2 separate regions of the Homo sapiens genome follow, and region 2 is linked to region 1. A link means that fine-mapping ties the variant in region 1 to the plasma level of a protein whose gene starts in the linked region. Region 1 holds a variant in brackets. A gene starts in the other region. All regions are shown on their reverse strands.

Evidence for each region. PIP is the posterior inclusion probability: the model's chance that the variant is causal. The UK Biobank Pharma Proteomics Project read protein levels with antibody pairs (Olink). The fine-mapping took linkage between variants from a reference panel, not from the people measured, so its PIPs are less certain.
Region 2: BPIFA2 starts here. The variant in region 1 is fine-mapped to the plasma level of the BPIFA2 protein (UK Biobank, PIP above 0.99).

The regions. Positions count from the first base shown.
Region 1 is chr1:102,640,160-102,656,308 of GRCh38, reverse strand. LOC105378874 (a long non-coding RNA gene) reads left to right here. Exons shown (of 3, transcript XR_947651.2): 3 at 8,284-8,406. Among named protein-coding and RNA genes, the nearest start is that of COL11A1, 460 kb to the left of the region's middle. The variant C/T (reference allele first, on the strand shown) is at 7,852.
Region 2 is chr20:33,158,942-33,175,090 of GRCh38, reverse strand. It overlaps BPIFA2 (BPI fold containing family A member 2), which reads right to left and starts at 6,932. Exons shown (of 9, transcript NM_080574.4): 1 at 6,882-6,932; 2 at 5,789-5,960; 3 at 2,015-2,159; 4 at 905-1,012. The coding sequence starts at 5,945. It overlaps LOC105372714 (a long non-coding RNA gene), which reads right to left. Exons shown (of 4, transcript XR_005647055.1): 4 at 14,468-14,845. RefSeq lists enhancers at 7,793-8,292, 8,293-8,794.

The DNA.
Region 1 (16,149 bases):
ACATATACTGTTACAGTGTTATTCTCACAGCCCTTCTAAAAGAAGTAAAAAGCCTTAGACACCTATCCCTTTCTACCTATAACACTCAGAGCCAGGCCAATACTATCTATTTTAAAAACTAGCATAAATGATCTTATGATCTCCTTCATTCCTAATTCTATCACTCACCAGAAGAATCCACACATTCCTACGGTACTGTCTCATATCTTGCCTTTCAATTTCCACTTGTCTCCTTCCATCCTTTCTTCTGTCCCCATCTTACATACTCCTCATTTATGGAAATTTCCCTTCCCCCTTTGAAAAACAATTATTTTAAGAAAAAAACAACTGGACAACAGCAGAAAGCCCCATATCCTCATCCCCTTCTCTAAGCATTTACTTTCTTGAACCAGCCAAAACTTTAATATCTTCTTGAGATACTAATTTTCTTGTCCTTTTTAAAGAGTGGGTAATTTTTTATCCTGTAATCATGAACCTAGATGCAAGCAAGGGGTCTTTCTTGCTTCACAGTTCTGATACCAGAAAGGGTGATCCAGACCCCAAGAGAGGACTCTTGGCTCTTGCACAAGAAGGAATTCAGGGCGAGTCCATAGAGTAAAGTGAAAGTAAGTTTATTAAGAAAGGAAAGAAATAAAGAATGGCTACTCCATAGGCAGAGCAGACCCAAGGGCTGCTTGCTGGCTATTTTTATGATTATTTCTGGATTATATGCTTAACAAGGGGTGGATTACTCGTGAGTTTTCCAGGAAAGGGGTGGACAATTCAAGGAACTGAGGGTTCCTCCCCTTTTTTAGACCGAATAGGGTAACTTCCAGATGTCATGGCATCTGTAAACTGTCATGGCACTGGTCAGAATGTCTTTTCACATGGTAATGTATTATAATTCATGTATAATGAGTAGCGAAGACCACGACAAGTCACTTCCGTCGCCATCTTAGTTTTAGTGCGATTTGGCCACTTATTTACCACATGCTGTTTTATCAGCAAGGTCTTTGTGACCTATGTCTTGTGCTGATCTCCTGTCTTATCCTGTGATTTAGAATGCCTATCCTTCTGGGAATGCAGCCCAGTATATCTCAGCCTTATTTTAATCACCACCTATTCAAGATGGAGTAGCTCTGGTTCAAACGTCTCTTACATTTCCACTTCCAAACTGTCCTCTCTTCCTCTTCCGCAAATACTCGAAGCACTGAAATTTTGCTCATAAAACTATGTAACTACTGCCAATTCTTTTTAGTGATCTGTGCACATCCAGGTCATCTCTCTTTTCTATCCACAGTTTTATCTCCTGTCTTAGTATCATATTCTATAACATTACAGCAATCTTAATTTCTGAGATTCCTGTATTCATAATGAGGGCCACACCAACATCTTGGCTCATGTTTCTTTGAACTTCTTTCCTCCAATATTCATGTCCTATTCTTGTCCTTATTCTTGTCTTCATACCTATTTTAGCCAGTTACCCACTGAACATATCCCTAGATCCTGCTGTTATCAATATCTTTAACCCTTCCATGTACTCAATTTCAATGATCCCCTTACCAGTTCAGCACATTCTTTCTTATAGCTAACCCTTTCAGGTACAAGACTCCAACAGTCTTTCAACCACAATGGACTTCCAATCCAATAATCTTAAAGCCTCATCATTGACTTAACTCCCTCCTTATTGAGAAAAGTTCCATAGTCCAACATTGTAACCACTCCCTAACACGTATCTTTAATTCTTTCTCACCTTTCTCACTTTCTTGTAACTTCAACTTGATTAAATTTTATTCTCACCTTGCAAATTTTATTCATCCTCTGCCTGAGAGTCTTAGAATGCTCTTCCATTGGATATCTATAAGCATTGCTCTTTTGTTTCTATAAGACTTTATAAAATGTTATTTCCATAAGATCTTCTTATTCCACTGTTTAAGTAAGGCAGTACTCCTTCCTTCTCGAGTTTTCTATTATCTCCATCTCCTTGTTCTGCTGTATTTTCCTCCATTAAAGTTAATAACAAAATAAAAGTTATTACTTTCTAAAATGCTACATATCTTACATATTTATTTTCTTTATTAGTTATTCTTTGTTTTCTACACTCTCACACACAGGATAGAATATGAGTTCTAGGTCCCCTTGTATATATATATATATATATTTTTTTTTTTTTTTCCACTGAGGTATTTTCAGTTTCTAGAACAAGTCTTGGTTCATAGAAGTAACTTAATGAATATTTTTAAAATGTGTTAAATGAATGAATGAACAAAAACAAATTGCCTCCAATAACTGTTGCTTGTGGCACAGGTAGCCATAACACGAACACAGTTGTGCCTTTCTGTTTTCCAAGGTTGAAGTAACTCCTAAATGAAAGAGTTTGTACTAAAATCCCAATAATATATGTAAAATCTATAGTTCTTTTCCCTACTATTTTGCCTTAGGAACGATTTTATTTCATTTGATGATTAACTGTGAAAATGTATTTTCTCCAGAATTTTCTGTATGTTGGACTTTTATCAAAATGTTACTACCACATACACATTTATTATAAATAGAGTAGAGAGACTGAACAAGAAAACTTGTGACTCCAGATCTCCAATTTTCTATAAAAGGAATGGATAATGAGATGAAATAATACCATGTATTCTTAGATTACTTTAGAAAAGCAGAGACAATTTTGTGAAATAAAATTTATGTATGTTCTTTCCTAGGTAATATGATTTGCTATTATTGCCCTATTGAGATTTTAATAAGCTCTTGGAAGGAAAGAAAGTTTGGTTTTAAATTAAAAAGAGTGCTATTTGTCTATGTTCTACAGCAAGGTACTCTGCTGCAGCAATTCACTTTGTTACACAATGTTCACCACAATACAAACCACTATTACAGATATAATACCCAGATGATACAAGGCACAGTAAACCAGGAGGTTTAATGTTTTTGATCCCATGCATGTCAATTTCTGCTTCATATTTTCACCTATTATGTGGTGTATCTATGTGTAATTATACAGCTGGTAGTGTTTTGATTTAGGTTTAACATAATTTCATATTAATTTTGTAAATTTCTCTCCTGATTGCTAATTAAAACATGCCAGTGATTACCCTGAAAGATATTAAGTCAGCATGAGGTGGTCAAATATTTCTTTGGAAACTCAAAATATTCATTTGTGCTAACCTAGGTGACTCAGGTACCACCAAATTTATTATTTTCTTATCAGTCCTAAAAACCTTTATAGAATGTGAAAAAAATCATATACAGTTTCTAAAACTTTTGCAGATGTTCATCTTTCTGGCAGCAGTTTCTTCCTGCACAAATTGAAAATGCTATTTAATTTTAAAAGGCAATATAAACAGACTCCAAAAAATATGTTCTCTTAATCATATAGAAGGGAAAGCTGGTAGTGTTTTTATCAAGTCTCATTTTACTCCTTGGTTACTAAATGTAGCTAAGATGACAAATTGATTTCTATACTGTAAAAACAAAATATTAACACACTTTTTTCCCCATAAGGTGGATTAGTTCTAGGTATTAAAATTTCAAGACATCAAGTTCAGGATACTTAAGTATCATTTGAGATAAATAGACATCTTTGGAAAATAGACAAATCAAATTTATAATTTTCTCTGAGTTTCAAGAAAAATTTAATTTTGGTAATCTCAGACTAAATAAATTAATATTGCTACAAGAATTGAAGAATTGGGTCAAATTTAACTTACAGTTCTGTTGATCATTGACTAATAATTCTTAAAGTATCCTTAACCATGTGGGAGGCTAAATAATAACGCTCAAAGGTCTCCAGGTCCTAGTCTCTGGAACCTGTGAATGTTACCTTAAATGGCAAAGAGAGACTTAACCAGATATGATTAAGCTAAGGATCTTGAGATGGGTAGATTTTTCTGTATCATTCAGGTAGACATTGAATGCAGTCACAGATGTCCTTATAAGACAAAGGCAAAGACAGATTTGAAACAGATAAGATGGTCACATGGCTGAAGTAGAGAGAAGCAGATGAGGCAGAGGGGAGCAGAGTCAGAGAGAGGTGAGACTCTGCTGGCTAGGTGCGAGAAGTCATGAGCCAAGGAATGCAAGTGATGCAACTTCAGAATCTGAAAATGAGAAGGAAGCACACTTCCCGAGAGCCTCTGGAGAGAGTGCGGCCCTGCTGACACTTTGATTTTAGCTCAATGCAACTGATTTCAGGTTTCTTATCTCTAGAGTATAAGAGAACGAATGTGTGTAGTTTTAAGCCACCACATTTGTGGAAATTTGTTACAGAACCCCTTAGGTAACTAATGCAAAAAAAGTGCCTGAAACACAAGAGGAAGATATAAAAGGCATTCAAATAGGAAGAGAGGAAGTCAAATTGTCTCTGTTTGCAGATGACATGATTGTATATTTAGAAAACCCCATCTTCTCAGCCCAAAAAATTCTTAAGCTGATAGGCGACTTCAGCAAAGTCTCAGGACACAAAATCAATGTGCAAAAATCACAAGCATTCATATACACCAATAATAGAGAGCCAAATCATAAGTGAACTCCCATTCATAATTTCTACAAAGGGAATAAAATACCTAGGAATACAACTTGCAAGGGTTGTGAAGGACCTCTTCAAGGAGAACTACAAACCACTGCTCAAGGAAATAAGAGAGGACACAAATAAATGGAAAAACATTCCATGCTCATGGATAGGAAGAATCAATATCATAAAAATGGCCATACTGCCCAAAGTAATTTATAGATTCAATGCTATGCTCATCAAGCTGCCATTGAGTTTCTTCACAGAATTAGACAAAACTACTTTAAATTTCATATGGAACCAAAAAAGAGCCCACATAGCCAAGAGAATCCTAAACAAAAAGAACAAAGCTGGAGGCATCATGCTACCTGACTTCAAACTATACTACAAGGCTACAGTAACCAAAACCACTTGGTACTAGTATCAAAATGGATATACAGGCCAATGGAACAGAACGGAGGCCTCATAAATAACACCACACATCTACAACCATCTGATCTTTGACATACCTGACAAAAGCAAGCAATGAGGAAAGGACTCCCTATTTAATAAACGGTGTTGGGAAAAGTGGCTAGCCTTATACAGAAAACTGAAACTATACCCCTTCCTTACACCTTATACAAAAATTAACTCAAGATGGATTAAAAACTTAAATGTAAGACCTAAAACCATAAAATCTCTAGAAGAAAACCTAGGCAATACCATTCAGGATGTAGGTAAAGGCAAAGACTTCATGACTAAAACACCAAAAGCAATGGCAACAAAAGCCAAAATTGACAAATGGGATCTAATTAAACTAAAGAGCTTCTGCACGGCAAAAGAAACTATCATCAGAGTGAACAGGCAACCTACAGAATGGGAGAAAAATTTTGCCGTCTATCCATTTGACAAAGGGCTAATATCCAGAATCTACAAATAACTTAAACAAATTTACAAGAGAAAAACAAACCACCCCATCAAGAAGTGGGCAAAGGATGTGAACAGACACTTCTCAAAAGAAGACATTTATGCAGTCAACAAACATACGAAAAAATGCTCATCATCACTGGTCATTAGAGAAATGCAGATCAAAACCACAATGAGATACCATCTCATGCCAGTTAGAATGGTGATCATTAAAAAGTCAGGAAACAACAGATGCAGAGAAATAGAAATGCTTTTACACTGTTGGTTGGAGTATAAATTAGTTCAACCATTGTGGAAGACAGCGTGGCAAGTCCTCAAGGATCTAAACCAGAAATACCATTTGACACAGCAATCCCATTACTGGGTATATACACAAAGGATTATAAATCATTCTACTATAAAGACACATGCACACATATGTTTTTTTTGCCGCACTGTTCACAATAACAGACTTGGAACCAATCCAAATGTCCACCAATGATAAGCTGGATAGAGAAAATGTGGCACATATATATCGTGGAATACTTATGCAGCCATAAAAAAGGCTGAGTTCATGTCCTTTGCAGGGACATGGATGAAGCCGGAAACCATTATTCTTAGCAAACTATCATAAGAACAGAAAACCAAACACTGCATGTTCTCACTCATAAGTGGGTGTTGAACAATGACAACACATGGACACAGGAAGGGGAACATCACACACTGGGGTCTGTCAGGGGGTGGAGGGGATCTAGGGGAGGGATAGCATTAGGAGAAATGCCTAATGTAGATGACGGGATGATGGGTGCAGCAAACCACCATGGCATGTGTATACTTATGTAACAAACCTGCACATTCTGTGCATGTATCCCAGAAATTAAATAGATATATTTTAAAAAGTGCCTGAAACAGTAGATTTCAGTGTGGAATCAACTGGAACAGGAAGACTAAGTCTGTAATCATAAACAACAGGTGATATGAATACAGATCCATTTTAAGTCTAAATACATGACATAAATTTGAGGAAAAATGTTTTGTTGTTAGGATGTTATGAAATAAAATATAAATATAAAATTTAAACTTTAAAATTTAAAGTTTAATAATTGTATATGTTTAATAATTTAAAATTTAATAATTTTGAACATACACAAAAGTTTGATAATTGTATATGTTCCTGTAAGTTCCTTCTTTTGACAAGAAAAAACATTATATGCACTTTTTTTTTTTTTTTTTTTTGAGACGAAGTCTTGCTCTTGTTGCCCAGGCTGGAGTGCTGTGGTGCGATCTCGGCTCACTGCAAGCTCCGCCTCCTGGGTTCACGGCATTCTCCTGCCTCAGCCTCCCGAGTAGCTGGGACTACAGGCGCCCGCCACCACGCGTGGCTCATTTTTTTGTATTTTTAGTAGACGGGTTTTCACCATGTTAGCCAGGATGGTCTCAATCTCCTGACCTCGTGATCCACCCGCCTCGGTCTCCCAAAGTGCTGAGATTACAGGCGTGAGCCACCGCCCCTGGCCAATATGCACATCTTAAATGCAATTCTATTTCAACTCTATGTTCTCTTTGCCTGTAAGGAGACCTCAATTTTCTTTGGAGCCTATTTCCTAAATCAGATAAATATATTATATAAGAGAGGATATGATTTTAGTGATAACAGCAGTAAAATAAATATGTAATCATTACTTTCCTACACAATCAGGACACTTTCCAACAAGAAATATATTTATTTTTAATGCCACTAGGAAAGACAGCAGCTAGACATTACTGAAGTTTCTCAGTTTGGGGCCCTACTGTCCTTTATTCATAGTGTCCATTCCATACCAACCTCTTGATGTTACATATTTTGGGTACCTGCCAATGGCTGGGCTTTCTGAAACTTGGAATTTTCTTTTTCTATCTGGTTAGACTTGTGAAGGCAACTACCATATTCCCTATGATACAAATAATACCAAATATATTTTTAAAAATTCTCTATGCAATTGACTTCTTATAATTTATATTTCTCCATTTTTTTTGCATGCCCGTGTTACATTTAGTTGCTGTCAAATGTAAGTGATACTTAGTTTTTCTACTGCAATATGGAGAGTTTTGCAGAACGATTTTCACTTTTCAAAAGCCAAATTTTACTACAGAAGGCATTGTAATGACTTTAATTATGGTTTAAATACTTCAGAATTATTTCTAATGGTTGTGGGTATTTCAGAGTAAATAGCAGGAAGTATGTGTAGAATCCTCATGTTGGATAAAGAACTATGACTCTTTTTTAAATGCTTAGTAATAATCAGTAAAAATTATATGCATATATATGTGTGTGTGTGGGGGGGGTAAATTGCCCAGAATTAAAAATAATTTCTTTATCTACCTTATGTTTTCAAGACAATTTTAATAAATCTTTAATGTTACAAATTATCTTCACTTCCATTCAATATATTCATAATTTTATTGTGAAAGTTCCATTTATAAGTCTATTT[C/T]GGTATCTAAATGTAAAACTACAGGCATTTACGACTATTTGTTCAACCGAAGAGAAAAATACCCAGAGTACCTGTTCTCATGATGCTTGCACTCTATTCAGGCTAGAGAAACAAGAAAGAAAAAAATGCACTTACTAACAGAAGGATCTAGTAAGCTCCAGACTAAAAAATTTAAGGCACAATTTAATGGGAGCTCAAAGACTTAAATTCTCTCCAAAATTACATTATAATCTTTTGCTTGAGAACATAGATTTGAGGCTCTCAAAATCAACCTTTTATGAAGTAAAATATAATCATGTGACTCGGTTTCATTCACTAAAGAGTGAGCAGAAATTATGTATGCAATCTTCTAATCTAGCCCTTAAAAAAGTGAACAAAACTAAAGCCTACCATACTCTTGTTGTTTTCATCCTCTTTTTATCTTTTCACTAGCAAGGATGGAGAGGACCCCAGTAAGCTTGGAAACCACATATTGAAAATGGTGTCATGGTTCCACTCAGCCTAATACTCTGAGCAAAGATGTGGAGGAGTGTTAAACTGGCATGGTCATCATAGAGTGAACAAAATATAAATGTCTGCTGTGTTTGAGGCACTTACATATCAAGTATGTTTGATGTATCATTGCAGTTACCCAAGGTAGAGGGAGTGGTATTTTATACAGGGTGGTTAAAGAAGCCTCTCTAATAAAGAGAGGCTGAGAGAACTTAATGAAGGGAGAGACTCACTTATGTGTCTATAAAAAGCAGAGTGTTAACTGTCAGAGGGAGAAATTATTGCAAAGAAGTGGAGGCAGGAGTATTTTTGAGAAAGCACAAGGAGGCTAACATTACTGGAACAGTAGACACAGGTGGGAGAAAGTGAGGTCAGAAAAGTACCGTGTGGCCATATCATATTGAGCCTTGAAGGCTGTGATAAACTTTTAGGATTTTATTCTGCATAAGACAGAAAGGCAGAGATATAATACAATCTAATCCTATTTAGAAAATCATGAGTCCTGTGTTGATAATTAAATGTAGGCAGGTGCATGAACAATTTAAAGACCATTATGGTATTCTAATATAAGCACTTACTGTTATAATTTTCTTTCTGAACTCCACTTTAGTTGCATCCCATAAACCTTGATATGTTTGTTTTTCATTTAGTATAATCACAAAAGCAGTATCCTTTGAGACTTTTTCTTAGGTGTAGGCACTACATAGGGTTTTGTTGATTAATTGCTAAATGTCTAAGGGGATATGACAGATGCCTTTATGTCATTGATTTTGGTTTAATCTATAGTTATCTGGGGATGCCCTTTGTATGATATCTATTCCTTTAAATTGTTTAAGATTTGTTTTGTGGCCCAGAATATGGTCAATTTTGGTGCATATTTCATGTATACTTGATAAGAAATCTTATTCTGTTGTTAAGTGGGGTGATGTAGGAATTAGAGTCAAGTTTATAGATAGGTTTTTCAGGTCTGGTAGTTAGATAGGTAGACAGACTTTTCATATCTTAGCAATTTTCTGTCTATTCATTTGATCAATTACTGAAAGATGAAGGTTGAAGTCTCAACTTGATTATGGAGATTTCCTTTTTCCTTTGTATTCTATTAGATTTGCTTCATGTATTTTTGAAGCTCAGCATTTAAGTACATATGTTTTTAGGATTTTTAAGTTATTCTTGGAAAACTACTTTTTTTTATAATGTAATGTCCCTCTATATTATTAATAAAATTCCATGTTCTGAAGTCTACATCATCTTATATTAATAGGGGCACTCTAGCTTTCTTTAAATTAGTATGTGCATGGCATATTCATGAGAGGTTTGAGAAATTTGGGGCTTGATCAAGGAAAAGATATGACCATGACATGGCAGTTTATTTCATCACTCTTTGACAGGTTTGTATTTTATGTGGGATGGGAGGGGGGATCTCTTATGACAGAACATAAGTCTATCCAGAGGCTTAAGTGGGGTTGCTACAGAAAGGGAGGAGGGCTGGGAATTTTCCTAGGGGGAAGGGGTATCAAAGATGGGACTTATGTATCCAGATGATGTGACTCAGCCACATCCAGAGGGCAGCAGTGGTTTGGGGGTCTTTATGGCATAGGGCTTATCTATTGCTGGCAGATGTGGCATGACGTTTTACAAAGTATTCAAAATAAGCAGGCTCTAAATAGCTAAAAATTAGCTTGTTTGGGCTGTTTTAAAAATAACTGGATGTGTAAATATTTGTGTTTGGCACTGGCAGGCTCTTGAGCTAATGGGTTGCAGCCTGCAGCGAAGAAATAAACAACCTAGTGGCCAATGTTCAGAGGCCATTATTTTGCCACATTTATATAACAATCCATCCCTGGTTCTATGTTGTTTTATAATCTAAATTGTATTTTGTTTTGTAGGGCTTAGATGGAGCCAGTGACAAAGCATTTTCATAACCCAGAATTCCATACAAGATGGGGCACAAACTAGGATTTCGAAAGTATTCACAGCCAGTCTATTCACCTAATGGAGGTAGAATAGATTAGAAACAGAAATGACTTTTTGATTTGTTCCATCTGTTTAGTCAGCAGACTGATATGATAGTTCTGGTGCATGTCATTAGCTACCTATAAAACTTGGTGATTGTTGTTTTACTCACATGCAGCAAGATGTGTTAACAAGTACCCAGATCCTTTCTCATTTTGTTCTTGGGCTAGATCCTTAAGGACAGACTGGGCCTCAGGGTGAGAGAGAAGATGCATGTTTTCTCCTCCAAGGGAGAGTTGGTTTCTCCTTCTTAATCATTTTGTCTGTTTTGTTCTTATTGCCTTGTGGTGGACGACAGGCAAAAAGAGGGTAAATTTTCCCAGTCCCAATTGTGGTGACACCATGTTGCTCTTTTCTCTAGAGGGCAACAGTCCTCTTCTCCAGGGTCCTCCCCTCCACTTCATCTTCTCTAGGAGTTTGGGTTCTTTTCTTCTGTCTGGTTGGCATCCTGGGTCCTCCCCTCCACTTCATCTTCTCTAGGAGTTTGGGTTCTTTTCTTCTGTCTGGTTGGCATCCTGGTGAAAAGCTTCTGTGAGCAGGGCCCAGCACACATCTCTTGGTTTGTAGCATTCCTTCAGTAGGATAGCCACTTCCTTTGAAGTATTGAGAAAAGGAGGAATATAAACTTCCTTAATTTCATCTTTTAAATAATGCATTTCTCAGCTCAGTCCAAGGCTTTGGGTCTCAATATACTCCCCAGAAATCAACTAGAATGACACCATCTCCAGTAGTAGATCCAAGTAAGACAGCAGCATCGGCATGCTATCTGCTTACAAATGTGTGCCACTCCAGCTGCACTTAAGAAGCCAACCCTTGTCTGTCATCTATGCCTTGTAGGTTCATTTACCTGCCATTGTAGTCCCCAAGGAAAGGACTCCTCTCATTTCAGCCAAATTCAGCAAATTGCCAGCCTAGCCAAAGGAGCACCTCCTGACGTACCTTGTTACTGTGTCTAAGATGTCCCACCATTTGTCCAGAGGCGTGTATTCCTCCTTTTCTATTCAGGCTCATAAGTGCCTGTTGCCTGCCAAATTAGGAACCCATGAAACAAAATACACAGTGGGCAGTTTGAATTACTACAAAAAGCAGAGGTAAGAACACCAAGAAAATGAAATGTTGATGAAATTGGATAAATATATGAAATAACATTCCAGTAACAATAGTGATTAACATATAATAATAAGATTTCCTTGTAGGAAGTTTGTCAGGAAATTGTAGAAAGATTAATTTTTTTTATAGTAGTTTAATCAAATTACCTTAAAAATTCCCTACAACAGTGACTCTAGCAATTTGCAAACAATTTATATCAAACTTTGAATTATGTCATTAGTTAATAATTAAAAAATAAGCAATTGTAAATAACACACACTGAAAAAGAATGTGATTATTATCTCCAATTTATTGATTTCCTTAAAATGTTGGCACTATAGTGCTTTCTTTGGCCTTTTCTTCTTATGTTTGTAATACCTTATCATTTTATTTTATTTTATGTTTTTATTATTATTATACTTTAAGTTTTAGGGTACATGTGCACAATGTGCAGGTTAGTTACACATGTATACATGTGCCATGCTGGTGTGCTGCACCCATTAACTCGTCATTTAGCATTAGATATATATCTTAATGCTATCCCTCCCCCTCCCCCCACCCCACAACAGTCCCCAGAGTGTGATGTACCCCTTCCTGTGTCCATGTGTTCTCATTGTTCAATTCCCATCTATGAGTGAGAACACATGGTGTTTGGTTTTTTGTCCTTGCGATAGTTTACTGCGAATGATGATTTCCAATTTCATCCATGTCCCTACAAAGGACATGAACTCATCCTTTTTTATGGCTGCATAGTATTCCATGGTGTATATGTGCCACATTTTCTTAATCCAGTCTCTCATTGTTGGACATTTGGGTTGGTTCCAAGTCTTTGCTATTGTGAATAGTGCCGCAATAAACATACGTGTGCATGTGTCTTTATAGCAGCATGATTTAGAGTCCCTTGGGTATATACCCAGTAATGGGATGGCTGGGTCAAATGGTATTTCTAGTTCTAGATCCCTGAGGAATCGCCACACTGACTTCCACAGTGGTTGAACTAGTTTACAGTCCCACCAACAGTGTAAAAGTGTTCCTATTTCTCCACATCCTCTCCAGCACCTGTTGTTTCCTGACTTTTTAATGATCACCATTCTAACTGGTGTGAGATGGTATCTCATTGTGGTTTTGATTTGCATTTCTCTGATGGCCAGTGATGATGAGCATTTTTTCATGTGTCTTTTGGCTGCATAAATGTCTTCTTTTGAGAAGTGTCTGTTCATATCCTTCGCCGACTTTTTGATGGGGTTGTTTGTTTTTTTTCTTGTAAATTTGTTTGAGTTCATTGTAGTTTCTGGATATTAGCCCTTTGTCAGATAAGTAGGTTGTGAAAATTTTCTCCCATTTTGTAGGTTGCCTGTTGATTCTGATGGTAGTTTATTTTGCTGTGCAGAAGCTCTTTAGTTTAATTAAATCCATTAGTCAATTTTGGCTTTTGTTGCCATTGCTTTTGGTGTTTTAGACATGAAGTCCTTGCCCATGCCTATGTCCTGAATGGTAATGCCTAGGTTTTCTTCTAGGGTTTTTATGGTTTTAAGTCTAACGTTTAAGTCTTTAATCCATCTTGAATTAATTTTTGTATAAGGTGTAAGGAAGGGATCCAGTTTCAGCTTTCTACATATGGCTAGCCAGTTTTCCCAGCACCATGTATTAAATAGGGAATCCTTTCCCCATTGCTTGTTTTTCTCAGGTTTGTCAAAGATCAGATAGTTGTAGATATGCGGCGTTATTTCTGAGGGCTCTGTTCTGTTCCATTGATCTATATGTCTGTTTTGGTACCAGTAGCATGCTGTTTTGGTTACTGTAGCCTTGTAGTATAGTTTGAAGTCAGGTAGCATGATGCCTCCAGGTTTGTTCTTTTGGCTTAGGATTGTCTTGGCAATGCGGGCCCTTTTTTGGTTCCATATGAACTTTAAAGTAGTTTTTTCCAATTCTGTGAAGAAAGTCATTGGTAGCTTGATGGGGATGGCATTGAATCTATAAATTACCTTGGGCAGTATGGCCATTTTCATATTGATTCTTCCTACCCATGAGCATGGACTGTTCTTCCATTTGTTTGTATCCTCTTTTATTTCATTGAGCAGTGGTTTGTAGTTCTCCTTGAAGAGGTCCTTGATGTCCCTTATAAGTTGGATTCCTAGGTATTTTATTCTCTTTGAAGCAATTGTGAATGGGAGTTCACTCATGATTTGGCTCTCTGTTTCATTTTATAATAAACAAACGTTTCTTTTACGATTGAAAAATTCAGAGAGATACAAAATTTGAAGTAATCACACCTTATTAACTTAAAAATATACCATATATAAAAAACTAATACACAAAAAATTATTAAAACTGATAAATTTAGTAAAGTTACAGGATACAAAATCAACAAACAAAAATAAGTACCAGTCCTATATACTAACAGCAATCTATATGAAAAAGAATCAAGAAAGAAATCCCAATTACAATAGTTACAAAAATACTTAGAAATAAGTATGGCTAAAGAAGTAAAATATATTTATAAGAAAAAACTAGAAAACACTGATGAAAATAATTTAAGAGGACACACACAAAATGGAAAAATATCCTATGTTCAACGATTTAAAGAATTAATACTTTTAAAATGTTTATACTCCCCAAAGCTACCTCCAGATTTGTTTAAAGAACCACATAAGATCTCACACAGCTAAAGTAATCCTGAGCAAAAAGAACAAAGCTGGAGGTATCACACCATCTGATTTGAAATTACACTACAAAGCTGTAGTAGTTAAAATCACATGGTACTGGAATAAGAAAAAAAAATAAACTAATGAAATAGAATAGAGAACCCAGAAATATATCTATGCTCTTACAGTAAACTCATTTTTGACAAAGGTGCCAACAACATACCTTGGAGAAAGGACAGCATCTTTAATAAATGGTGATAGGACAACTGGATACTCCTATGGAAAAGAATGAAACTAGATCCATATTTTTCACTGTATTAAAAATCAACTAAAATCAATTAAAGATTTTAATGTAAGACATAATCCTAGGCCGGGTGCGGTGGCTCACGCCTGTAATCCCAGCACTTTGGGAGGCCGAGGTAGGCGGATCATGAGGTCAGGCGATTAAGACCATCCTGGCTAACACGGTGAAACCCCGTCTCTACTAAAAATACAAAAAAAATTAGCTGGGCGTGGTGGTGGGCGCCTGTAGTCCCAGCTACTAGGGAGGCTGAGGCAGGAGAATGCGTGAACCCGGGAGGCAAAGCTTGCAGTGAGCCGAGATGGCGCCACTGCACTCCAGCCTGGGCGACAGACCGAGACTCCGTCTCAAAAAAAAAAAAAAAAAAAAAAAAAAAAAGGCATAATCCTAGAAAACTACTAGAAGTAAACATTGAGAAAACACTACAGGACATTGATCTGGGCAAAGATTTTTGGGGTAAGTTCTCAAAAGCACAAACGAAAAAAGCAAAAATAGACAAACAGGGTTTCATCAAGTTGAAAAGCTTCTGAACAAAAATGAAACAATTAGCAAAGTGAAGAGACAACCTAGAGGATAGGAGAAAATATTAGAAACTACCTATTTGAAAAGAGATTAATAAACAGAATATAAAAGGAACTCAGGCAACTCAATAGCAAAACAACCAAATAACCCAGTTAAAAAACAGGCAAGGGACATAAACAGACATTTCTCAAATGAATGCATACGAATAGCCAACAAGTAAATGGAAAAATGCTCAACATTATTTATCATCAGGGAAATGCAAATCTAAACCACAATGTGATATCATCTTATCTCAGTTAGAATGGCTATTGTCAAAAAGATTTTTTTTAAATGACAAATGCTGGCAAGGATGTGAAGAAGAAATAGCAATGCTCTTACACTCTTGGTGGGAATGTAAGTAAAAGAGATACTATGGAAAACAGTATAGAGGTTTCTCAAAAGACTAAAAATAGAACTACCATATGATCCAGAAATCCCATTCCTGGGTATATATCCAAAAGAAAGGAAATCAATATATTATAGACAGTTGCTCTCCCATGTGTATTGCAGCACTATTCACAATAGTCAAAATATGGAATTGAACTAAGTGTCCATCAATAAATGAATGGATAAAGAACACACAGTATATATACAAAATTTAATTTTATTCAGCTATAAAAAATAATAAAATTCTGTCCTTTGCAGCAACATTGATGGAACTGGAGGACATCATGTTAAGTGAAATAAGATAAGCTCAGAAAGACAAATATCTCATGCTGTCACTCATATGTGGGAGCTAAAAAAAGTAGATATCATGGAGGCAGAGAGTAGAATGGTGGCTACCAGAGGCTGTGAGAGGAAGGGAGGATAAAGAGAAGTTGGTTACTGGGTACAAAAATATGCTTAGATGGCATAAATATGTTCTAGTATTCAACACTACAGTAGGAAAATTAAAGTTAGTAAAAATTTATTGTATATTTAAAAGCAGCTAGAAGAATTGTAATGTTCCCAACACAAAGAAAAGATAAATGTTTGAGGTGATGCATATCCTAATTACCCTTATTTCATCATTATACATTGTATACACATATCAAAATAGTACGTGTAACACCCAAATATGTACAACTATGATATATCCATTAAAAATAAAGTCAAATACAGACACACACACACACACACACACACACACACACACATATATATATCATATATTATGTATTGTTTGAGTATTATCCCCAAAGAATGTACTTTTACTTA
Region 2 (16,149 bases), not on the chromosome of region 1:
TTATTACTATCCCTATTTTCTGAATGAGGAAACCTTGGTACAGAGAGGTTAAGTAACTATCCCAAGATCTCATAGCTAAATAATGGGTGGCATCATTAGTGCATGTAGTTTACAGAAGTGCTTTCACACATGCTCATTTCTTGTCTATCTCCTTTAAAATTAAAATTTTTTATTTTTTGTGAGACAGGGTCTCACTCTGTCGCCCAGGCTGGAATGCAGTGGTGCAATCACGGCTCACTGCAGCCTCGACCTCTCCGGCTCAAGCAATCCTCTTGCCTCAGCCTCCCAAGTAGCTGGGACTACAGGCGTGTGCTGCCACACCTGGTTAATTTTTGTATTTTTTGTAGAGACAGGGTTTTGTCATATTGTCCTGGCTGGTCACGAACTCCTGAGCTCAAGCAATCCTCCCACCTCAGTTTCTCAAATTGCTGGGATTACAGGTATAAGCCACCACTCCCAGCTAAACTTAAAAGAGTTTAAACTTATATTTTGCACACACACACTTTATTATACACTGTGTATTATTGTATGAATTTTTCTGTAGTGGTCACTGCAACTTAGAGAGAATCTTGAGGGACAAAATAATGCTGGAGGAAATTTTGCCAAAGAATGATAAATGTTTGTTATCTCAACTTTTCAAATTTTAAAACCAGATAAATGTCATGATTTCAAAACTATATTCAATGGAGCATTGTTTTTAAAAGACACTTGCTTATGGCCAGAGTTCTCTAGAACATTTTAAGGGTTAAGATCTTAGACCCAGAAGGGTTCTCTCACTCACAGATTGGGAAACTGAGGCCCAAGTTCACCCAGCAGCGGGAGGAGGTGCCCGATTCCCAGGTTGGGCATCCATCGGCCAGGTTGCACTGCCTTTCCCAAATCTCAGATTCTAGTGCATACTCACCCGGCCACAGTGACATTCGCGGTGACAGGGAAGCTCAGGTTAAGGCCTTTGCCATCATCGATCGGTTCAGCTTTGACATCCAGGATGAGGGAGTTGCTGATTTTCAACCTGTGTGAAACCCACAATTCACCCTTGTCACTCCTCATGACAGCCACTTGCCAACCACTTCCCTGGGCCAGCCTCGAGCTGAGCGTTTGGGTCTCGTCAGCCTTGCCTTCTTTAGTCTTCACTATAGCCCTGTTCAGAGGTTTGATTCTCTGTATTTTATGGCACAGCACACTGAGGCTCAGGCTGGTGTGATTTTCCCCCAGATTCCTAGGGGAGTAAGTGCCAGAGGCAGATTTTGAGGCCAGAACTATCTGACTTTAAAAGTTCATGAGTGGGACCGGGCACGGTGACTCACGCCTGTAATCCCAGCACTTTGGGAGGCCAAGGCAGGCAGATCTCCTGAGGTCGGGAGTTCGAGACCAGCCTGACCAACATGGAGAAACCCTGTGTCTACTAAATATACAAAATTAGCCGGGCGTGGTGGTGCATGCCTCTAATCCCAGCTACTCAGGAGGCTGAGGCAGGAGAATCGCTTGAACCCAGGAGGCGAGGCTGTAGTGAGCCAAGATTGTGCCATTGCACTCCAGCCTGGGTAACAAGAGTGAAACTCCATCTCAAAAAATAATAATAATAACAATAATAATAATAAAAGTATGTGAGTGGATCCACTGCCTGGGGTTATGTGGCGAAGACTCCAGTTCCCTTCCCCTAAGGGGATCTGGGCTTTTACCCCCAGTTATATATGGAAAAGGGAAGTTTTATTCCTTGGAAAGGGACTTTGTGTACCAGCAAATGGGTAGAGGTAAGGATAAATATAACCTTCACCCTGACCCTGAAATTAAAGAAAGCGGAAGCCCGAACCCATAAGATGCCCGGATTGACTCTGTAGCCCTGCCTCTAATTTACTCAAGCTCTGGTGGGTCTGGCCTTGCTCAGACCACCTTGGCTCTGTGGGAGGGGAATGAGGCTTGTCCATCTGTCTTTCATCTTAAACTTACCTCCTCAAAGATATGTTTTCCCTTTCCTTAGAGCAAAGATCTCCACCCTGAAGGACCAACTCACCCAAAAATGTCCGTGTTAGTTGGAAGCAGCTTAGAAATGACATTGTTCAGCAATTTCTCAGCTTCCTGGGCCTTCTGCTTGGCCAGTTGCCAAGCACTGGATTTCTGAAGCACTCCTAGGTCGACCTTCAGTTTCTCAAGGATGCCTGCCAAAAACAATCGCCATTTTGTGTCACGCACCACTTACGAAGTAGCTACGATGCTCCAGGTACCGGGTAAGACTGTTTGCCTATGTTATTTCATTTAATCTTTATAACAACTCAGTGAAGTAGATATTGTCACTGTCTGCTTTTTTATAGCTAAGGAAATAAAGGCTCTAGATGGTTAAGAAACGTGTCTAGCCACACAGCCAGGGAACTCTTGTTTCCTCCATACTGCCTCCGTACTATTAATAATATATACTGATTATTTATCAACAGTGCAATCAACCAGTTGGCCAGGCAATTGCTATTGATTGTACACCAGTGTCTAGGAGTGACTTAGGGGTCCATTGTGCTAAGTGAGATGCTCACGTGAGTTTGAAAAACTAGAAAGAATGAGAGAATACACTCAAGAAATGAAAAATCTAGAATCCAGGAGAAAAAATGGCTCCAATCCATGAAACTGGAAAACGAGAGTCCCAGAATGACAGCTTTCCAGCAGGTCCACAGAGCAATAATAATAATTTTTTTTTTTTAACTTTAAGTTCCGGGATACATGTGCAGAATGTGCAGGTTTGTTACATAGGTATACATGTGCCATGGTAGTTTGCCGCACCTATCAACCCGTCATCTAGGTTTTAAGCCCCACCTGCATTAGGTATTTGTCCTAATTCTCTCCCCCACCTTGCCCCCAAGCCCCCAAATGGCCCCAGTGTGTGTTGTTCCCCTCCCTGCATCCATGTGTTCTCATCATTAAACTCCCATTCATGAATGAGAACATGCAGTGTTTGGTTTTCTGTTCCTGTGTTAGTTTGCTGAGGATGATGGCTTCTGGCTTCATCCATGTCCCTGCAGAGGACATGATCTCATTCTTTTTTATGGCTGCATAGTATTCCATGGTGTATATGTACCACATTTTCTTTATCCAGTCTATCATTGATGGGCATTTGGGTTGGTTCCATGTCTTTGCTATTGTAAATAGTGCTGCAATAAACATATGTGTACATGTGTCTTTATAGTAGAATGTTTTATATTCCTCTGGGGATATACCCAGTAATGGGATTGCTGGGTCAAATGGTATTTCTGGTTCTAGATCCTTGAGGAATCACCACACTGTCTTCCTCAATGGTTGAACTAATTTACAGTCCCACCAACAGGGCAAAAGTGTTCCTATTTCTCTACAGCCTTGCCAACATCTATTGTTTCCTGACTTTTTAATAATTGCCATTCTTACTGGTGTGAGATGGTATCTCATTGTGGTTTTGATTTGCATTTCTCTAATGATCAGTGATGATGAGCTTTTTTTCATATGTTTGTTGGCCACATAAATGTCTTCTTTTGAGAAGTGTCTGTTCATATCCTTTGCACACTTTCTGATAGGGTTGTTTGTTTTTTTCTTGTAAATTTGTTTAAGTTCCTTGTAGATTCCGGATATTAGACCTTTGTCAGATAGATAGATTGCAAAAATGATCTCCCCTTCTGTAGGTTGCCTGTTCACTCTAATGCCAGTTTCTTTTGCTGTGCAGAAGCTTTTCAGTTTAATTAGATCCCATTTGTTAATTTTCCATGCTCACGGATAGGAAGAAACAATATCATGAAAATGGCCATACTGCCCAAAGTAATTTATAGATTCACTGCTATTCCCATCAAACTACCATTGACTTTCTTCACAGAATTAGAAAAAAAAACTACTTTAAATTTCATATGGAACCAAAAAAAGAGCACATATAGCAAGACAATCCTAAGCAAAAAGAACAAAGCTGGAGACATCATGCTACCTGGCTTCAAACTATACTACAAGGATACAGTAAGCAAAACAGCATGGTACTGGTACCAAAACAGACATATAGACCAATGGAACAGAACAGAAACTTCAGAAATAACACCACATGTCTACAACCATCTGATCTTCAACAAACCTGACAAAAACAAGCAGTGGGGAAAGGATTCTGTATTTAATAAATGGTGCTGGGAAAACTGGCTAGATGTATGCAGAAAACTGGAACTGGATCCCTTCCTTACACCTTATTAAAAACTTAACTCAAGATGGTTTAAATACTTAAATGTAAAACCCAAAACCATAAAAAACCTGGGCAATACCATTCAGGACATAGGCACGGGCAAAGACTTCATGACACCAAAAGCAGTTGCACCAAAAGAAAGCAATAATTCTTATAGGAGGAGGAGGACAAAGTGTCTTTATGATAGGTCTCTGGAGAACAGGGGGATGGGAATAAATGTCGTGACTGGGTGTGGTGGCTCACGCCTGTAATCCCAGTACTTCGGGAGGCCAAGGCAGGAGGATCACTTGAGGCCGGGAGTTCGAGACCAGCCTGGGCAAAATGGTGAGACTCCACCGCTACAAAAAATGTAAAACTTAGCCAGGTGTGGTGGTGTGCACCTGTAGTCCCGGCTACTGGGGAGGCTGAGGTGAGAGGATCAGTTGAGCCCAGGAGGTTGAGGCTGGCAGTGTACTCTAGCTTGGGTGACAGAGTGAGACCTTGTCTCAAAAAATAATAAATGTCATGATAGATACAGGATGATGCTCATGAAAATAATTAAGTATATATGAGAAGAAAATAATTCAAGTGAGAAACAACAGGGCAATTACTAACTTAAGGAAAAACAAAAGACTATACCGTATAAGAAAAGAGATGTAATCATAATATTGTAACTTGGCTCTGTAATGGACAATATCTACCTAGTTATAATGATTCAGAGAATGACACTTTAAATAAAATTGGTGATATAACTACGTCTAATCGTATAATTCACGAGGTGACTTTGGTTTAGACATTTCTGTCTCTGGGCCTCAGTTTTCTCAGCTGTGAAATTAGAGTGTGAGTCCTTTCTGCATCTTTGAAAGTTACCTAAGCCCTTGACAAGGTTTGAAAGGCAGCCATTTGCAGAAGTTACCTCCTCCTACAAAAACTGTTTTTGATGTGCTGCTAATGTTTCCATAAAACAAAAAGAAAGCCAAGTTATTTTAATAGGTTAGCATAAAAAGGAGGTATAAATAAATATAAAGGTAGGTAGCTTTACAGATACCAAGGCTAGGTAGGGATAATTTCCTTAATTTTCACTGAATTAACACAAGTCCATAAAAGAATATTAAACAACCCAAAAGAAAAATATGCTAAGAATATAGACAAAATCCTCAAGTTAAAATATGTAAGTACATAGTAAATATATGAAAAAAGAAGAGGGCTCCTTCATAATTAGAGGAATGCAAAGTGAAATAAGTTATAGCTTTTCATCTGTGAGACAGGCAGAATATTTAAAGTTGTCCATACCCAGTGCTGGAAAAGGAGTGGGAAAAAAGGCACTTTCGTAGACTGTTGGAGAAAGTGTTAACATAGGAGATTATTTGTCAACAGCATAGTTTTTGAACTTTTGAAATCCCACTTGTAGGAATTTATCTTATGCACGTTTATCAGGATATAATATGTAAAAGGCTATTCATTGTGGCATTGCTTGTTTCTAGAAAGATAAACGAATGAGTCAGGAATTGAATAGCCACTTTTCTCAGTAAACCGCCCATAAAGAGTAGCCCCTGGTGGCAGCCTCTGGTAATGCAGGCATAGTGTTTAGGAGGCTAATTTAGGTGACACTGTTCATCACCCTTGTTGATTTACCTTTAAGAGTATTGTCAACTGTCTCAAGTCCCTCGTGAAGAACAGGTTCCAGCTTATCCACGACATTGCTTAGGTCATTGCCAAGATTGTCAAGAAGAGACTCTGAGGTCCCAGTGAGCACGCCGCACAGGAGAACAAGTTTCCAAAGCTGAAGCATCTTTTGTCTTGACACCTGGACAGTCATGGGAAGAACAGGAGTGAGAATTGCCCAGAGGGAAATGGACTCTTCAGTGAGTTCCCATCACTCTTAACATTTAGCATTCCATTAAGATAGATGTGGTTATTTCCTATTTTACAAATGGGCAGCCAAGGTCAGAAAGCTACAGCAACTTGCCCGGAGACACACAGTCAGTGAGCAGAGGAGCTGGGATTTGAAAAGTCAGACTTGACTCCAAGCCCATACTCTTGACACAAAGTTCCTTTTCATACGCTGTCTTCTCTGCCTAAAATATTTTTCTTCTTCTTTACTTTTCCACTTAGGTCAATTCCTACATCATGCCCTCTGTGAAGCCTACTGTAGGCCCCTTCCCAGATTCTAGGTTGGAGGAGTCCCACCTTGCTGCCTTCATTATCCTGATCAAGGTCTTGGATAACACTTCCCTGATGATTTGACCACCTTTCCTACCAGGCTGTGAACTCCTTAGAGGAAGGACTGTGACTTATTTCACTGTCGAATCCTCAGGCGCCAGTAAAAAGCCTGCACCTAGTACAGTACAGTAAACGAATAAATCTTTGTTGAATATAAGTATGAACAAATCAATGGAGACCACCTCATGACCCTGCATTGTTCATTAGTTTGACACTTATTTTAATATAATCTATAGATCTCTAAATTTACTCTGATTTGCCATTTGTCTTGACACCTGGACAGTCATGGGAAGAACAGGAGTAAGAATTGCCCAGAGGGAAATGGAATCTTTAGTGAGTACTCATCACGAACTTGCCATTTAGAGCACATTTAGAGATATATTGATTATCTCTGCTGTATTCAAAATATTAGCTAACCCAAGCAATCCCACCCCTCTGCCTCTTGCCCCCAAAGCCTTCCAAAGACCACCACGTGTGGTGCCACTGGGGGGAGCACGCCACTCACGCGTTTAGAGGAGGATGCTCATGAAATCCTTGCCCCACTGCACAGTCTGCTGGGATTCTGCTGAATGGTGGCGGCTATTATATGGTGGAGATGGGATGGAAGGCTGCCCACAGAAGCAAGCCTTGGTTCTGGGATCATCCAAGGACACTCCAAGGAAAATAACCCCTCTCCAGGATGAGCAGAGAGAGAGATTTCCAACTCAAAGGTCACCCAGGATGCTTGAATTGAAACGGATGGCTATGGAGAGGGCTTTCCGCCAAGACTAAGACCAGGTCCTCATGGAGCCTGCAGCTACCGAGGGGGTGGTCCTTGGTCCTTGTGGGTGAGGACTGGGAGAAGACTGAGAATGAATGAATTGGAGAATGTCCTGGCAGGAGGACCCATAATGACCATCCGGTCTAACTCCGTCATCATTTGGAAACTGAGGCTCAGAGAGGGGAAGCCACCAGCCTGGGGTCATTCAGCAAGACAGGGACCGAGATGGGTCTAGAATTGTGGCCCACAAGGAGTCAGACAGCCTCCCAGGGGTCCTGCCCCCAGGGGTCTGCACCCGGCAGGTGCAGCAGATGCCTGGCAGCTGCTTGTGCTGACACTGGGCTTGGTGTCCCTAAAGGGCACTTTAGATGCACTTTTCTGTTAGTCTTTATGAAAACTCTGTAAGGCAGGTTTTCAGAGCTCCATTTTCCAGTTGAGAAAGCTGAAGTTCAGAGAGGGAGGTGGCTTGTCCATACTTGCAAGGACAGGAACCAGGCATTTGGGCCACCAGGGAAGACCCTTCCACCCATATCAGGCTGAGGTCAGTTAGCAGAGAGGGAGAGTCCCTGGGCCTGAGTATCCTGTTTTTGCTTCGGCCACTGATGTTTGGGTTGGTTGTAACGCCTGCTGCATTGGGCCTGTGTCAACCCGGAACAGCACAGGAAACTCGGGTGGGTGCCCACTTGGCCTCAGGCTGGGAAGGACTGGCACAGAGCTCAGGGTCACCATAGGTCTCTGCCCTTCTGCTCACCCACCTGCAATTCAGCAAGGACCTGGGGGGCCTGTCCTCAAAATGATGCAACCAAGCAAACGGTGGGACAAGACCAGTGGCTCCAGGAGCTGGCTGTTCCTACACTGACCATGGCTCCACTGTTACAGCACAGAGCTGGGCGGCTGCAGGAAGGTGATGGCCAGGCCCCAAGAGCCCAGACCATTAGACCCCTGCTGCAGTCTTGCCTGTGGTCTTGAATGGTTGTCACACCTCCTTCCCTGGCTGCCTGACACCGGGTTCTCCAAACGTCTGAGCCCCGCTCTTCCCCCAGTTGTGAAGCACAGAGCCAAGGGCTGTGCTGAAATCTTGTGAAGGCAGTTTGTCCCAGCCCAGGAACATAGCCCAGGGTGCTGAGCATGATGCAGTGACCTCGAGACCTGGTGTTGGCCCAGGCCTCAGTTGCCTCATCTGTAAAATGGGTAAACACGCTGTTCCTGGATCTCAGAGGCATGGTGGACAGGCAAGGACCTAGGAAATCAAAACGATGGTGAGGGGCTTTGAGGGCAGTGCTCAGAGCCTGGCACTGGGCTTGGGCTGTCCTGGGCATGAATACTCTCTCTCTGCTGGTTGCTGGCCATGTGACCTGGGCCAGAGACCGCACCTTGCTGAGCCTCAGGCTCTTTATCTGTGAAATGGGACTAAGAACAGTGCTCACCTCAAGGGCATGCTGTGAGGTCAAATTAGTGTAATACCCATGAAGGCTTAGCATAGGGTAGGCCCATGATGCACGGCAACAGCAAAGATGGCGAAGAAGATGCTGATGAATATGTGCGCATATGGTCCCGGCTTACGATGGTTTGACTTCAATATTTCAACTTTACTATGGGTTTACTGGGACACAACCCATTATAAAATGAGGACCATCTGGCCAGGCATGGTGGTTCACACCTGTAATCCCAGCACTTTGGGAGGCCGAGGCGGGCAGATCACCTGAGGTCAGGAGTTCGAGACCAGCCTGGCCAACATGGTGAAACCCTGTCTCTACTAAAAATACAAAATCTAGCCGGGTGTGGGGGCAGGCATCTGTAATCCCAGCTACTCTGGAGGCTGAAGCAGAAGAATTACTTGAACCCAGGGGGTGGATGTTGCAGTGAGCCAAGATTGTGCCACTTCACTATAGCCTGGGCAAAAGAGCGAAACTCCGTCTCAAACAAACAAACAAAAATAAAATAAAATGAGGAGCATCTGTCATAAGATTAATATTATATAATATATAATATAGGGTCCTTGGTGGGTGGGGAGGTTGGGATCCTCAGAGGTCACCCGAGGTTCAGGCTGGCTGGTCTGAGTCATTCCGGAAAAAGAAACAGTGACAACTCCTCCTGTGTGCTCCTCCTCCTCCTCTTCTTCCCTCTCCAGGTTACACAAAGTCTTCTCACATAGAAGATGTTTGCCTCTTAGGGACAAAGGCCCCAGCCATGAGGGTCGCGAGATGAATTTCTTATTGAAAATTCCCAGTGAGGCATTAAAGATTAGCTGTGCCAAGACTAGGACATCCTACCTGCTGCGTGACTGCTAATCCCCAGCTGGGGCAGCTTCCTGATCCCACTGGCCCAGCCTTAACCTCCAAGCTGGTATCTTTTTCCATACCTGGCTCAGTGCCCTGGCTAGAAACAGCCTAAGAGGTCATGCAGCCTACTGAGACCAGAGAAAGCGAGTGACAGGGCTGGGGTTGCATGAGGGGCCAGCCAGGCTGGGGGGTGCTCAGCTGACCAGACTGCCCACTGACCTTCCTTCTCCTGTGGACAGAAGCAGCCCCCACCCCTTCTCCAGATAACAAACACACAGGTGTGCACTCCCATTGCACCCATCAAAGATAATTGCCTTATTTTGCTAGTAAAATTGCTGAAAGGCTTGTCACCATTTTGCCTGTGAAATCAGTCAAGTACGAATCATCCATCCAATTTCTAGTAGGTCCTGGTTTCTCACACTTGAACTGCCTACTCAGGAATTCTGGGCAAATAAGAAAGATCAAAGCAACAAAACCTGTTCACACGTTACTGTCCTTCCTGTGACTGCTAAATAGAGCAATTAATAAAGTTGTCACAATGTTACAGTCTGAAGACCTTTAATTCAACTTTTGGTAATTTTGACTTTGCCGGGTTTTCTTCTGGTGACACAGTTTATTCTTTCAGCGCTCAAGTATTTCCCTAAGTCCCGGATTCCACATCTGGACACTAATAGACCCCTCTCAAGTCCTGCCTTTAGAATATGGAGAGCCACTTCCTATGGACTGACAGATGGAGGGGGCCTTGCCCCACTGCAGGCTGGAGTCTTCTTCCTCCTGTCCCATGGAATGTTCCCTGAATGCTTCATCCAACACTCCCAGAGAAAATTTAAAGGAGTTTTCACCGGGTCAGGGTCCTCCCCTGGGTCCTTTGAAGTCTGGGCACCTTGTCTTCGTTCACCTTCGTTCCCCCAGAGCTGGCACAGGGTCTGGTCTACAGCAGGAGTCAAATGATGTTTGTGGCAGGAAAGAAAGGAAAAAGAGAGAGAGAGAAGGAGGAAAAAAGAGAGAGGAAGGAAAGAGAGAGGGAGGGAAAGAAGGAAAGAGAGGGAAGGAGGGAGGGAAGAAAGGCAGGAAAGGAGAGAGGGAAGGAAGAAAGAAAGAAAGAAAGAAAGAGAGAGAGGGGATGTGGAGAGAGAAGAAGAAAGGGAGGAGAAAAGGAAGAGAAGAAGGGAGGGAGGGAGGTCAGCCACGTCTCGCCAGTCCCACTCTCTGAGGGCAAGACCACAGCATCTCCGAGGTCCCAGTACCCAGCACAGGGTCTGGTTCCCCTCATGGGCATTGACTTTCTGTCTTCCCCAGGTGGGTGGGCCTCTTGACATGAGCGAGCTCTCTGGGTCGCTCCCTGTTCTCACCTCACTCCCTGGAATTTGGCCCCTCAATCTCTCTGTGCCCTCTCTCATCTTCCAGATCCTCCCTGCTAAAGTGGGCCTGGCCCTGTATCTAGTCATCTGTCCATTTATTTATTGTTCATTCACTTTACAAGTGCAAATTATTTTCTGCTGGAGCCACTCATGCTTTTGACAACCCTTTAGTGGGCACCCCAAGCCCTGTGATGGGGTCAAAGATGTCTGAAGCTCAGTCCTTGTCCCAGAGACAGGCCAACTCCAGGGCAGTAGGTGAGCTGATTCGATCGGCCCATGTCTGGCAAGAAGGCATATTCTCTCCATTTACTCCTCCCAGCAACCAGAGGCAGGGACTGTCTTATTCCCATTTTATAAACAAGGAAACTGAGGCACAGAGAGGTAATGTGTACTGCCTAAGGTCACACACCTAGTAAGTGGCAGAGCTGGGGCTTGAACTCAGAAAACCTGGCTCCGGAGTCCATGCTCTGAGCTACTCACAGTGCACTGCCATTTATACTGTACATATATATATATATATATTTTAAACAAAGTCCATCTCGGCTCACCGCAACCTCCACCTCCCGGATTCAAGTGATTCTCCTGCCTCAGCCGCCCGAGTAGCTGGGATTACAAGCATGCACCACCACACCCTGCTAATTTTTGTATTTTTAGTAGAGACGGGGTTTTACCTTTTGGCCAGGCTGGTCTCAAACTCCTGACTTCAAGTAATCCGCCTGCCTTAGCCTCCCAAAGTGCTGGGATTACAGGCATGAGCCACCGTGCCCGGCAGCACTGCCATTTATATTCTAACAGTCGGAATCCTCCCTGGGCTGTGTGGGTCCTTTCGATTCATCTCCATTGCGCTAGCACCCCCAGCCCCAAGCCTGTGTCAGAGAAATCCCTTCATAAAAGCTTACTGGTTGAAGGGTTGTGGGTTAGCCCTTTCTCCTCCGCTGGACTGGGGCTCCTTAAGGTTGGGGATCATGATTCTGCCATCTGTGTGTCCTCAGCAGCCAGCCTGGGGCCTGGCTTTTGGTGGATCCCAATAAATACCACAATTAATTAAAGTGAGAAAAGCAAGTTAATCCACAGACTGAATAGATGAATGTAGATGAGACCCAGAATCACAAGAAGAGTCCTTCCTTCCCTCCACCCACCCATCCTGTCATTCATTCATTCGTCACACACTTACAGAGCGTCTCACCTGGGTCCTGTCCTGTGTGGGGCTCTGGGCCCCACAGAGCACCCCCACATGTGTCCATCCTTAGACCCCACCAGCAGGGGCAGAGGCCAACACGCACACTGACAATTACTTTCCACAAAGCAGGTACAGTTCTTGCAAATTTTCTGTGCATTGATGGCCCCAAGCAAATGGGGAGCTGCTGTCCCTGGCACAGTGCCCAGCCCTGGTGAAGGTCCTTCCTTTAAGCACTGAATGGGGTCGAAGTTAGCACTTTGGGAGTGAAAGAGGAAGTGCTATGACACTGTGGGGTAGGTGGAGACAGATCATGTAGAAGACAAATGATGGGAGGATTCCAAAACGTGGCTAAGTCTGGGTATATTTATCTTGCAGGGGCTTTGGGTAACCAGCCAGACCTCAATTTGGGTCCTAACCCTGCTGCTTTCTAGCTGTGTGACTCTGGAATGGTGGCATTGCCTCTCTGGGCCTGCATTTCCTCATTTGCAAAATGGTGACCATGATCATCTGCCTGACATAGCTGATCTGGGACTTAAGCCTGGAAAAGAGTTAGCCCAGTGTCGGGCACATCATAAGTGCTCAGTAAAGATAACTCAGAAGTGCTGTGCCCAGCGGCAGGATTAAGGGTGGGAAAGAGGGCAGAGCCTCATTCTAGATTCCGCCACTGGCCAGCTGTGTGATGTTAGGCAAGGCATGGCCGCTGTCTGAGACAGTGTCTTCTGCTCTCTAAAATCGGTGCTAATCCTGGCTAGTAGGGACTGGGGAGGCATTAAATTAAAGGGGGAATGCAGAATCCTGGAGCATCGTGTGGTGGCCACTCAATCAAAAGGGGGAATAAAAACCATGGGAGAGGCTGGGCACAGTGGCTCATGCCTGTAATTCCAGCACTTTGGGAGGCCAAGGCGGGTGGATCACCTGAGGTCAGGAGTTCAAGACCAGCCTGGCCAACATGGTGAAATCCCGTCTCTACTGAAAATACAAAAATTAGCCGGGTGTGGTGGCAGGTGCCTGTAGTCCCAGCTACTCGGGAGGCTGAGGCAGGGGAATCATTTGAACCCGGGAAGCAGAGGTTGAAGTGAGCCAAGATCTCACCATTGTACTCCAACCTCGGCGACGGAGCGAGACCCCATCTCAAAAAAACAAAAAAATCAAAACCATGGGAGAAGTACCATAGCTCCTTGTCTTTTCGTCCGGGACCCTCGAAGGACTTGTTTCTGTGGGGTCTTGGCTTACCACCTCAGACTTCTCTGTTTCTGCTGGACAATTCCCAAAGCCTCCTCTCTGGCCTCGCAGAATTTCTTTGCATCAACTCTTCCCAGTGCCAAGGGCCAGGTCTGAGGATGTCACCCCCCTGCAAATTCTCCCCATCCTGCAAGCACCTCTTATATAAAGCCTTCATTGAGCCACCCAGCTGACCTTTTCTCACGTTCTGCCTTGTCATTTTTGAACAGGTGTCTTCCTTGCCTACACACCCACAGCTGTCTCTTCTCCATTGTCAACTCCAGGAGGCCAAGTTCTCTCTGGGGTTCATCTCTGGTTTCCCACCATGGCTTGCCAATAAACTGAAATGTTTGTCAGTTGCATTTGTCAGGATTCTTTGGGTTATATTTGTAATTGAAAACACAACCCAAAGTGACTTAGATGTGAAAGAAAGTCATTGGCTCATGTAACTAGCAGGCCAACGGGTTTCAGGCATGGCTGAATCTAGGTGCTCAAAAGAAATCTCCAGGCCTTTGTTTCTTTCCATGACTTGGCTTGGGGTTTCTCCTCAAACTGACTTCCCCAAAGAGGTGGCAGAGATGGCCACCAACAGATTCAGGTCCACATTCTCTCTTAATAGTCTAGCAGAAGAAAGTATGTCTTTCCTAATATCTCTTCACAAGTTCTAGGACTGATTCCCATTGGTCCTGCTGGGGTTACATGCGGAGCAATGAACCAACCAAAGTGGCCAGGGTGAAGGAAGCCACTGGTTGGCCGATTTGAAAATATTACATCTGCAAAGAGGCAGAGGTAGAATGGTCAGAGGAGGAGGAGGAGGAGAGCCAGGGGAGTAAGGCCAAGGGAAGAACTGGATTCATGGAGGAGGAAGTGGTATGTGTGCTATGGTCAAGATGAGGCTGACCTCATCTATGATCCATTGACTTCCTCTACCTGGTGATCACGGAGGACCTGGTAAGGCCGAGTTTGGTGGGGCAACCAGTGGAAACAAGATGGGTGGTGGGGTGGATGTATCCAAAATAAGCATGCTGCTCAAAGGGTGGCCCATGGACCGCTGGCCTCTCCCTAGTTCAGACCAACTGCTCTAGAACCTGCATCTTAACAAGAGCCCAGGTGGCTCATTTGTGTGTTCAAGGTGGAGAAGCACAGCTCTAAGGAACTTTGGCTGCGAAGGGACGAGAGAGGGAAGGAGGTTGGTGGAGGGAGTGTGGAATTACAGAAGGGACCTTTATTCTTCCTGAGAAGGGAGGGACTTGAGCAAGTTAGGTGTGTGTTCTTAACAATGGAAAAGGTGGGGGGAGGGGATGTTTTATTTAACTTTCTGGTCACCATGTAAAACTTAATATGTTGCAGGACACTGTTGCAGATTTGCAGGTCAGATTCATATCAAATGGGACCTGGCTATGCTTACTGCCTGAAAGAATGAATGTCGTGATGGTGATATTTCCCAGGAGCCTCCCATAGTGGATCCTGTGGTGACCCAAGTCCTCGCCATCCATCTGAGCATTTATTGCTGGACCAAGAACAGGTGCCCTGGGCCTGTGGAGACTCAGGAACCCTGAAGGCCAGCTCCACTTGCTTCTTCTCTGCCTTCCTTGTGCCACCCTCAGGCTCCACGTGACTCTCCCCGCAGCCTGCAGGGCCCTCAGGTTGTTCACAAAGGCGGTCCTGACGAAAAGGTTGAGAAAACAAACATGGTCATATGTGTCATCAGCCATGCACCCAAGTGACACTAGGGAGGCCCAGTGTGGACTGAGCTCTGGGTGGCTTTGGCTGGGGCATGGGGAGACACCCAGGAGCTGAGGGCCCTCTTCTTGCTGCAGGGTCCACCCCCGCAACTCCAGGAGCCTCCTGGATATGGCTTCTTGGCTGTTGCACTGCATTTTTCTCCAGAGAACCAGGGGACCGTGAAGGCACTCCACTTCAAACATCCCAATCCCTGTGGTATCAGTGGTGAAACTGAGGCCAGAGGGCATGGGAGACTCAGCCAAGACACAGTAGGGTCCCCCCTGCTCCAGGCCCCAGACACCCACCACCTCCTGCAGCTCCTGCTCGCTGCCAGAGGATCTAGGTGTGAAGCCCAGCTCTGCCTCCTTCCAGCTGTGTAGAAGTGGGCCAGGCAGCAGCTAACCTCACTGGGCCTCAGTTTCCTCATCTGCAGAATGAATATGTATCAACAGCTGCCTCTTAAGGGGGGTAAAGGGCGGAATGAAATGATCCATGGCTGGGCATAGGATAAACAATCCACAAAGAGCTAAGGTCTATTCAAAATATTATTGCTATCATTGGCCCCATTTTTCCCCTTTGGAGCCTGAGGCACGAGAGGTTATGTGTCCTGATAGGCTGAAGAGCTGGGATTTGAGCCGAATTCTGACTCCCCAGTCAGACTCCCCAGTCCATCCATGCAGTCCCATCACCACTTTGAACCTCAGTCTCCTCATCTCTAAAATAGAGATAATGATACTGCTGACCTTGAGAGGTGGCTATGAAAATCACATGCGATCCTGAAAGCCAAATGCCCAGCACAGTGCCTGGCATAAAAAATAAAAATAAAAATAAAATGCTGCATTATGCAAATATCCTTAAATTCTAACAGGTATGAGAAACATGGAGTAGCAGGGTCACAACTCTACCTTGTGGCAAAATCTGAGAACTGTGCCTGCTCTCACCCCAATCCCTCCGCCTGGGAGCCCTGCCGGTGCCCAGGCCATACCTGCTGCTCCCTGTGTGTGGCCAGCAGCGGGAGAGACGTGGAAGGACAGGCAGTGTCCAGCTTCTGTCACTGTGCTTGTCTACGGGGAACAGGGAGAGGCAGAGAGTGTGATTGTGGGTTCTCACAGCCCCTTGCGGTTCCCCACTCCACACCTTAGCTCAAGCTGCCTGTCCCCTCTGCCTGGTGGTGTTTAGACAATCTGCCAGTGGTCATATTTGTTTAACAGTCAAGGAAACTGAGGCCCAGTGAGGTGAGGTGC